Linked DNA regions of Homo sapiens: region 1 is linked to region 2. A link means that fine-mapping ties the variant in region 2 to the expression of a gene that starts in the linked region. Tissue or cell type: macrophages. Region 2 holds a variant in brackets; the other region holds the start of a gene. All regions are shown on one strand. Distances are from middle to middle.

Region 1 (5,477 bases), 770 kb after region 2:
GTACAATGGCGTGATCTTGGCTCACTGCAACTTCCACCTCCCAGGTTCAAGCAATTCTCCTGCCTCAGCCTCCCAAGCAGCTGGGATTACGGGCTCTTGCCACCACGCCCAGCTAATTTTTTGAATTTTTAGTAGAGACGGGGTTTTGCCATGTTGGCCAGGCTGGTCTCGAACTCTTGACCTCAGGTATCCACCCACCTCGGCCTCCCAAAGTGCTGGGATTACAGGCATGAGCCACTGCACCCGGCCTTTTTTCCTCTTTTTTTTTTTAAATGAGCCAAGGTCTCTCTATGCTGTCCAGGCTGGTCTCAAACTCCTTAGCTCAAGTGATTAGGCTGGTGTCAAACTCCTAAATTCAAACTCCTAACCTCACACCTCAGTCTCCCAAAGTGCTGGGATTACAGGTGTGAGCCACCACACCCGGCCACAAACATATTTTTTTAAAAATTCTTTAATTATATAATTTTTAAAATAAAGATATAGGGTCTTACTGTGTTACCCAGGCTGATCTGGAACTCCTAGCCTCAAGTAATCTTTCTGCCTCAGCTTCCCAAAGTACTGGGATTATATGCATGAGCCACCATGCCTGGCCACAAACAAATTTTTTTTAAGAATTATTCAATGTGTATAATTTTTAAGCAAACAGGGCCTTGCTCTGTTGCACAGGCTGATCTGAAACTCCTAGCCTCAAGCGATCCTCCTGCCTCAGCCTCTCAAAGTGCTGGGATTACAGGGAAGAATTTGCAAATTTAGAACTTGTGAATAATGAGAATCTACTGCACTTTCTTCCTGTTTCTCTCATTCGGGGCTGGCTGAATTCTGTCTTACTCATATTTTATCTCTAGCATCTGGAAAACTGCCTGGCCCACAGTAGGCTCTCAATAATAAATGTATTTCCAATGAGCGAATGAGTCAATTCAGTGGAAGTGCTCAGCTCACAGCAGTGATAGCTAGTGTTTGTGAAGACACACCACGCGCCTGCCCCGTGCACGCTGTCCTGGTCAACAAGGGAAACAGCAGAGTATTGTTCTTTTGCACCTGAGCTCAAGAGCAGACTGCCTGGGTTCAAATATGGGACATGCTTCTTATTAATTAATTATATAACTTCGAGCAAGATCATTGGCCTCTCTGAGCCTCAGTTTCCTTGGCTATCAAATGCAGTATTCATAGTTCTACCGTGGAAGTTATGGTCAGGAGTCTAACTTGGCCCTGCACAGAAAGCCTCTAGCATAGGGTGAACCCTTAGTAAACAGTAGCTTTTATTGTGAATAATTCCCAAGGCAACCCGATTTTCACACCCATTTTGCAGATACAAAAACTGAAGCTGAGGATGGTTCAGTGAGTTTCCAAGGTCACAAAGGAAGGGCTGCCTATGGGGGGGAATCTATGCCCATGTTAGTAACACTGCTGTTATATAAACATAAGGGGTCAGCGGGGCGCAGCGGCTCATGCCTATAATCCCAGCACTTTGGGAGGCCGAGGCTGGAGAATGGCTTGAGCCTAGGAGTTTGAGACCATCCTGGGGAATATAGTGAGGCCCTATCTCTATAAAACAAACAAACATAAGGGCTCATTTTTACTAGTTGTAAAAGGGCCCTTTTACTAGTTGTAAAAAAGGCTCGTTATAAGGCCTCTCACTGCCTAATCAGCTAGGTTTGCCAAAATGAGGAAGACAGCTCCAGCCAGTCTCCTGATCTTCTCTGGGATCAGGGTGGGGAGGAACCCCCTTCCTACCCATAAACCCCTAAGAGTCTTCGCTCACATTCCACACTGGTGTCTTTCTGTTCCTTGTCCACTTTCGAGTTCAACCCTTTCAGAACCAGCCCTACTGTGGGGGGTGGGGGATGGTTAGTTTGTTATCTTGGGTTTGACAGTACAAAGGCAGAGGCATTTCCTGCTTAAAAGGCACATGAGAAAGGAGGAGGAGGGCGAACTGGAGGAATAGGAGGAGGAGGGAATCATCAGCATTCTGGGTTAGAACAAACAAATGTCCTCCGTTTTTCTCCAACTCCTTAGATCAAGGGTCCTCAAATTTGGCTGCCAGCTGGAATCTCTTGCAAACATTTTAATACCCAGATGTCCAGTCCCCCACCCAGACCAATCACATCTGAGTCTCTGGGGGGGGGCGGGGGTGGAACTAGGGCATCGGTATTTTTTTAATGCTTCCCAAGCAACGCCAACGGGCAGACAAGTTTAAGAAGTGGTGCTCTGGACCTTATCAGCACTCGGCTGCCACCCTGGAGTGGCTCTGGGCGACAGTGGCTGCTTTCCGCTTCGAGGACGCCCGGCTTGGGGATTCGGGCATGCTCTGGGAGGCGAGGGCTGGGGAGGATGCGAGCGTGCCAGCGACCTGGTGCTCTGCCTTGCTCTAGGCCCAGCTCCGAGGCTGCGGGTCTCTGGGTCCCCCCCACGGCTACAACACGTGCTGCCGCCCCGACTCCTCCGGTTATCTCTGCAGACCGCAAGCGGTGCCCAGCGGCCGCCCCGCTGTCCACCCCGACCTCAGAGGCTCCAGGGAGACGCCCGGGGCTCAGGAATCCTACCTTGGCTGCCGGCGCTGCCCTCCAGTCCCCGGAATCCTGGGACTCAGGTTCGAGCTGTCGCTGTCGCTGTCGCTGCGCCTGTGAAGCGCCCACTAGAGCGCAGGCGCCACCTAGTGGGCGCGGGGCGGCTGCGCAGGGACCGCGCTGGCAGGCGGGAGCGCAGTCCAGGGCGGAAATGCAGCCAGGGCTTCTTCCCACGTGGGCGGTTTTCCAGCGCGCCGCCAGCCCTGTGGCCAGATCCGGCCTGGGGCGGGACCACCTTCACCCGCTGCGGGGCACTGGGATCTAAACTTGGTGAACTTTCTCTTGGGGCACGGAGGGACCCCTCGGCCTGGTATCCATCCTCCGGTTTTCCGGGCTGAGCACAAGGATCTTTCCCTTCATCCAGCAGCTTTCAGTGCACCCCACCTTTGGCACTGCTTCTCTTTTAAATGTGCTGGGACCATCCGAGGCTGGGGTTCTCTCCAACCCAGGGAGGCCCTTCGCCTATCAGCAACCATTTTTTCCTGCCACCCCCTAAACCGTCCCTGAATGAGAGAAACAGCCTGCTCTGCTGGCTTGCTCTACAGAGGCCAGGACTGGTGGAGGATGGGTGTGTGCCAGCGACCTCGTGCTCTGCTCTGCTGGAAGGCCTTCTCTGAGCAGTGGAAGGGGAAGGGGCGGCTTAAGGGAATTGTGTTTTTTGTTTTTTGTTTTGTTTTGTTTTGTTTTTGTAGAGACAAGGTCTCTCTATGTTGCCCTGGTGGCTCTTGAACTCCTGGTCTCAAGCGATCCTCTCACCTGCAGCCTCCCAAAGCACTGGGATTACCGGAGTAAACTATGGCTCCCAGCTGCCTGGTATTCTTTCAATGAAGACATGCCAAAACGCTTACAAATATGGTGGACATTTAATGGTTTATATTTCATTTATGTCTTCATTTAACAACGATTAACTGAGCACCTACTATGTGCCACTTTTCTACAATCAAGGGATACAATGAAGAACAAAACACAAAAATCTCTGCTTTTGTTGAATTCACATTTAATGTAACACATGAATACTTTTAACACACCCAACGATCTAATGCAAAGCGATTGAGCTCGTTGTGAGATAAGTAGAGGATTTATTAAAAATATCTATATTTAGGGCCAGGCACCGTAGCTCACGCCTGTAATCCCAGCACTTTGGAAGGCTGAGGCAAGAGGATCGCTTGAGGTCAGGAGTTTGAGACCAGCCTAGCCAACATGGCAAAACCCAGTCTCTACAAAAAATACAAAAATTAGCCGGGCGTGGTGGCAGGAGCCTGTAATCCCAACTACTCCAAGGCTGAGGTGGGAGAATCCCTTGAACCCGGAAGGAGGAGGTTGCAGTGAGCTGAGATCGCACCACTGCACTCCAGCCTGGGTGACAGAGTGAGACTCTGCCTCAAAATCAATCAATCAATCAATCAATCAATCTATGTTTAGGGCGCCAAGGGCAGACATTCCTGGTGATGGATATAAGCATTACAGAGTTCTATGGGAACGTCTTCACGTTTTCTTGTAATCCTGGCAGTTTATCTCTGTGGCAACATTTGGAGATAATGCCTTCAGTGGAAATTTCAGGTGATTTGTGAAAGTTAGGCCTGCAATCCTCCTTTCCCCCTCCCCCCGGCCCCCACTCTGCTCCCCCAGGACGCTCTGTCATTGTTCTAGCCCAGTGTGAGTTTGTGTGTGAGTGTGTGCCTATTTAACCTTTGGACTCTCTGTACTGGTGTAATCTGGTCAAAGTGAATATCAAGGGCAGAGGAGGACAAGGAGGAGCAGGAGGAGAAGGAGGATGAGGAGCAGGAGGAGGAGCAGGAGGAGGAGGAGCAGGAGAAAGGAGGAGAAGCAGGAGCAGGAGGAAGAGGAGCAGGAGAAGAAGGAGCAGAAGGAGGAGGAGCAGGAGGAGGAGAAGGAGGAGGAGCAGGTGGAGGAGGAGGAGCAGGAGGAGGAGAAGCAGGAGGAGCAGAAGGAGAGGAGGAGCAGGAAGAGGAGGAGAAAGAGCAGGAGGAAGAAGAGGAGGAGAAGCAGGAGGAGGAGGAGGAAGAGCAGGAGGAGGAGGAAGAGCAGGAGGAGGAGCAGGAGGAGGAGGAGAAGGAGCAGGAGGAAGAGGAGGAGAAGCAGGAGCAGGGGGAGGAGGAGGAGGCAGAGCAGGAGGAGGAGCAGGAGGAGGAGGAGGAGGTGTCATCTGTGGACAATACCTGGAAGGGCAAGGGGTGGTGGGTGTCACTAAAAGGAACCAGCCCCAGCTACTTCACTGCAGGCTGGTGCCCTGGTGAAGGTGAATCAGTCAGAGGAGTGCTGACTGCCCATGGTAAGTACCAGCTGCCAGACAATTTCCCATTCTTTCACTTTAAAGTGTCTGAGTCATGTCCAGACCATTCTTGCCCCATCTTTGCAACAGCTCCCTCCCCACCACTGTGCCCCAAAGCATGCCTGGGCAAAGTCCTAGATTACAACCTCTGGATTCTGGCATCACCTGATGAGATTAAGTCTTCCTAGTGACTTTCTCTTCTGAGTTCTCCTGGCATTTTTCTCATTCTGCTAATCACAGTGTTTCTGGAAACTGCAGAGTTATCAACAGATCTGTTTTCTCCATGGAAAACAGGAGTTTTGGTAGGCTGAAGTATGTAAATAACAATAATAAAATATTTATAACGTGTTAGACACTAACAGTTTTCTTTAAGAGATGGGGTCTTGTTCTGTCATCCAGGTGATCATTGTTCATTGCAGCCACAAATTCGAGCTCAAGGGATCTTCCCACCTCAGACTCCCAAGTAGCTGGGACTGCAGGCATGTGCCACCATGCCTGGCTAATTTTTAAATTTTAATTTCTTTTTTTTTTAAGAGATGGGGTTTATTGTTTTTTTTTTTTTTTATGTTGCTCAGGCTGGTCTAGAACTCCTAGCATCAAGCATTTCTCCCACCCCA
Region 2 (5,000 bases):
TGGATTTAACAACTAAATAAACAATTTACTATTCTGTGAAATAAGGAAAACTGAGGCAAAAGAGAAATAGTAGAAAGAAGAAAAGGGGGAAATGAAGAGTTCACTGTAGAGCTGCAGCCTTGAAGATACCTATGAAACCTCCAGGTGAAAATATGGTGGGCGGGGGGAGGGGAATTGGATGTACACATCTGGAGCTCAGAAGAGAAAGCAGGGCAGAGGAACGCAATGTGGGAGTGATCAGCACACAGCTTGGTTTTAAAGGCCTAGAAATGAATGAGATCACCTAGGGAAACAGTACAAATATCAAAAGGAGACCAAAGCTATTTCCTGAGTCGCAGCAGAAGCCTCAACAAAGGAGAACCAGCAGAGTGTATTATTGCAGAAGCTAAAAGAGGAGAGCATTTCTAGAAGGGCGGGGTACTCAACTATGTCACCTGACACTGAGAGGCCAAGTGAGATGAAGACAGATGATCCAGTAGATTTGGCAGCATGAAAATCACTGATGGCAATGACACGAGCAATCTCAGTAGAGTGCTGGGGGTGAAAGTCAGATTGGAGTAGGCGAAGATGGAATGAAAGAGGAGGAAGTGAGATGGCATGTAGAGATGTCTCTGAATGGTTCTGCTATGAAGGGGAGTAGAAAAATGGAGCTTTTGATAAAGAAGAAGGCTAGACTAAGGGACAATCTCTAATGATGGAAGACGCTAGAGAACACCAGAGTTTCTCAGTACACTCATGAGAATGATACAAGAGAAAGAGGCTGACGATGCAGAGAGAGTGAATAACCAAAGAAGTCGAGACCTTGAGTGTCTAGAGCAGTAGCCCCCAAGTCAGGTATGCAAGGCTTTGTAAGGCCATCTGGAAGAGTGGTGGGGCACAGGGGAGAGGTAGAACTGCTTTATTTTTAATATAAAATGAAAGAACTCAAGCATTATTAAAATATGTATGCATATATATATATACACACACACATATACACACAAATAGGTTTAATATGAATATTATTATAAAACAGACACGAGTACATGAGTACTACCACCAGCACACTACTGGTGGTGTGCTGGAGTCAGTCCACACTGGCTCATGAGAGCCCACTGTGTGCATCTCTTTCCAACTGCACATTCAGTAACACCGTGACGGTGGCTTGAAACTGTCCACAGTGAGAGTATTTACACTGCGGAAATCAAAAAACACTAAAAATCAAGGCTGGTTCTTTCCCCCTACAGGCCACTTGTTAAACACTTTCTAGGATGTCACTGTATGTGCTTATCTACTGATAAGAGTATGTGATCAAAAATATGTGGATAGGAGAGAAGATACTTCTTATATTGGAATAGGCTAGAAGGAAAAAGAAGGTATGAATTCAGATAGGATGATAAATGTAATAATAGTAGGCAGATGAGTACGTTCTAGGGTTTCTTTTGGAGGGGTGGTAGTTAGAGAATGCTCTGACTTTCTCAATGAAGTTAAGGTGAATCACTAGCTAAGAATGTATGCTGGTCATTAGAGCTGTTTGCCAAATAGTTCTGGATTCCTCCTCTGCCACCCAGCTTTTTGGGCCCAGTGTAAAATTACACTTCCTGGTCCCCTCAGGATGGATGAAACATGGGATTACTTCTGTCCAGTGAAAAATGATGGCCATCCCTTCCAGCCTGGAACATGTCATTGTCACTGCAAGACCCTCCAGCATACTCTGCACCCCTCTGCCACAGCAACCAGCTGGTGGCTGCTTGGATCTCTGAGCTACTTTAATGGGTAGTGACTCTGTGCCAACCCACAAATGATACATAAAATGGACAAGAAATATTATTGTGTGGAGCCACTGAGATTTGAGAGTTATCAGTTACTATAGCATAATCTAGCCTGTTCTGAATGAGGCAGAGTGCAGGAGATATTATAGAAGACATGCAGAAAGTGGGAGGAAGTATGCAGAAGAAAAATGAATGAGTCAAGTCTGAATGTGAAAAAATGACTTTACTAGGTAAGTGTGGTAGGACTGCCCTGCTTCTCAAAATGCCTATCTGAGGTGTTGACCATGAATTGAAAGTGACAAAGAGAAGAGTCATGTGGCATACCACTATGGATTGTCATTGAGATTGTCAGGGATCCATTAAGGATTGAGTTTCCATATTTTAGTTATCCCCATTGGAAAACAGAAACAGTGATATCGTACTTTCTATTTACATAGCTTATGAAGAAAGCAATGCAATCCTGTAAGCAGAGACCAAATATTCTGAAGCCATGAGCAGCAACTCTAATTCTATCACTATACTGGTTACTTTCTTAGCAAGTCCCTGAGGCCCCAGTATACTCAAAGCAATGATGAAGAAGTGATGAAGAAGGTAATTTCTTCACACTGTCTTAACACCTCCAGTACTCTCTGAATGGTCCTTAGTATAAAACAATAAAGAAAAGTATGGTAATTCCCAAGAACTCTGTTTCTGAACACACTCCCCTCTGGGACTAAGAAAGGAATACTGAAAATAATGCACTCATATGCACAAACGCCTGCCCACCCCCCATTAAAATTCTGCTGCCCTTATTCAACATACACTGGGTCTCAACACTGCATAAGATATATTTAATATGGGGAAATTATAACCCTATAGACCAGGAAAAACATATAACCACATAAATATCATCTGTAAATACCTTGACATAAAAAACAGCATAAAAAGAAAATAATGGCATGGGAAAATATTCCATTTTTTTCCCACTCAGATCATGTCCCCTTTCTCTCTGACCATATGTGCTTCTATTCCTGCAGTCCTCAAGTGTCCAGCTCTTAAATACTTCCCCCAGGCTCCTCCCCCAACTCCACACCTGGATGGTCCTTCCCATCCCTGGGTCATTTTCTTATAGAAACCTTTCCTGGACATGGATGAAACTGGAAATCATCATTCTCAGTAAACTATCGCAAGAACAAAAAACCAAACACCGCATATTCTCACTCATAGGTGGGAATTGAACAATGAGATCACATGGACACAGGAAGGGGAATATTACACTCTGGGGACTGTTGTGGGGTGGGGGGAGGGGGAGGGATAGCATCAGGAGATATACCTAAAGCTAGATGA[T/C]GAGTTAGTGGGTGCAGCGCACCAGCATGGCACATGTATACATATGTAACTAACCTGCACAATGTGCACATGTACCCTAAAACTTAAAGTATAATAAAAAAAAAAAGGAAACCTTTCCTGAATCTCCACCCTCAAATAGGTGCCCTCTGTTATCACTCCCCACGCTTTACTTCTCTTTTGTAGCACTTATCTATTTGTAACTATATTTATTTAAACTATTATTAGTTTAATAATCTGTCCTGTAAGATCACAAGCTCCTAAAAGAAGATAGTACTAGTGGCCTGGAGCGGTGGCTTACACCTGTAATCCCAGCACTTTGGGAGGCCGAGGCAGCTGGATCATCTGATGTCAGGAGCTCGAGACCAACCTGGCCAACAAGGTAAAACCCTGTTTCTACTAAAAATACAAAAACTAGCTGGGCGTGGTGGCGGGCATCTGTAATCCCAGCTACTCAGGAGGCTGAAGCAGGAGAATCACCTGAACCCGGGAGGTAGAGGTTACAGTGAGCCGAGATCACACCACTGCACTCCAGCCTGGGTGACAGAGCAAGACTCCATCTCAAAAAAAAAAAAAAAGAAGAAGAAGAAAATAGCATTAGTATCTGTTATAGCCACATCACTTGGTTCCACATAAGTGCTCAAGACTCCTTTCTAAGAATAAAAGCTTTAAAAGACTGAAGCAGATGAGTGGAGATCTTGGCTGGGGCAGGAAAGAAAACTAAATGTAAAGAGGCATGAGAGATCTTTTTGGGGTGCTAAAAATGTTCTAAAACTACTGTGATGATGGTTGTATGCCTCTGGAAATTTACCAAAAATCACTGAATTGTACAATTTCAAAACGTGCATTTTATGGTATGTAAATTATACACATATACAGTTAATCAATAAACTTTTTGAAAAAGAAGATTGATAGATGTGAATATCTGAAAATTTAAATTTTTGTATAAAATAAATCATAAAATTAAAAGGCAAACAAACTGGAAAAAAAAAGTACAACCTATATGGCAGGAATGCAGAAACATTAATGCAGAACCATTAAAAATTTAAATACACACACACACACCCATTCACAAGCAAATTAATAGAGAAGCCTCTTAGCACATAAAAAAATTAACTGCCTGGGCGTGGTGGCTCACACCTGTAATCCCAGCACTTTGGGAGACTCAGGCGGGTGTATTGCTTGAGCTGACGAGCTCGAGACTAGCCTGGGCAACAAGGTGAAATCCCCTCTCTACTAACAATACAAAAAAATTAGCCAGGTGTGGTGGCATGCACCTGTGGTCCCAGCTACTTGGGCAGCTGAGGTGGAAGGATGGCTTGAGCCCAGGAAGTGGAAGCTGAAGTGAGCCTAAGCCTGGGCCACAGAGTGAGACCCCATTTCAAAGATAGATAAATAAATAAATATTAACTGTATCAAAGTTGGAAAATATATAATTTGTATTATACTTAAATTAGTTACTGTCTATCAAATTTGCATTAAAACATTTTATAATAGTAATACATATTGTTGATAATGGCAAAATTCAATATTCTGATAGCGTGCAATTAGGAATGCAAATTATTACAATGTTGCTTAAGGCCAATTGGACAAGATCTATCAGAACCTAAATATGCCCATATCTTTTCATGCAGTTATTCTACTTTTAGGAATTTGTCATAAGGAAGTTATTAAACACACCAAGATTATAAGAATATTCATCATACTGCTATTGATAATAATTAAAAACTGAAAACCACCAAAATGCCCAAGAAGGGTTTAGAAGGGAAAATGGTACAACCACGTGATGGAATATTAAAGTAACAAACTTAACTGTTTGGAAGTCAGTAGGAAACTATACTCATAGAAGAAATTAGTAACAAGATAGACAAGAGATCTCAGTTTCATTAAAAGAAAAACAGTACATATGTAAAAGCTCACAGAAAA

Direction of the effects. Positions count from the first base shown, and alleles are read on the strand shown. Sizes are in standard deviations (SD) of each study's normalised expression.
With allele T in place of C in region 2, the expression in macrophages of the gene that starts at base 2,630 in region 1 is lower (large effect, 1.0 SD a copy in Alasoo 2018).

The links.
Region 1: it holds the start of CHD9, and the variant in region 2 is fine-mapped to the expression of CHD9 in macrophages (Alasoo 2018, PIP 0.95).

The regions. Positions count from the first base shown.
Region 1 is chr16:53,052,144-53,057,620 of GRCh38, reverse strand. CHD9 (chromodomain helicase DNA binding protein 9) reads right to left here and starts at 2,630. Exons shown (of 39, transcript NM_001308319.2): 1 at 2,544-2,630. It overlaps CHD9NB (CHD9 neighbor), which reads left to right and starts at 4,724. Exons shown (of 3, transcript NM_001396020.1): 1 at 4,724-4,860. RefSeq lists enhancers at 2,243-2,292, 1,805-2,336.
Region 2 is chr16:53,818,664-53,823,663 of GRCh38, reverse strand. The region is part of intron 2 of FTO (FTO alpha-ketoglutarate dependent dioxygenase); the gene reads right to left. Among named protein-coding and RNA genes, the nearest start is that of FTO, 120 kb to the right of the region's middle. The variant T/C (reference allele first, on the strand shown) is at 3,078.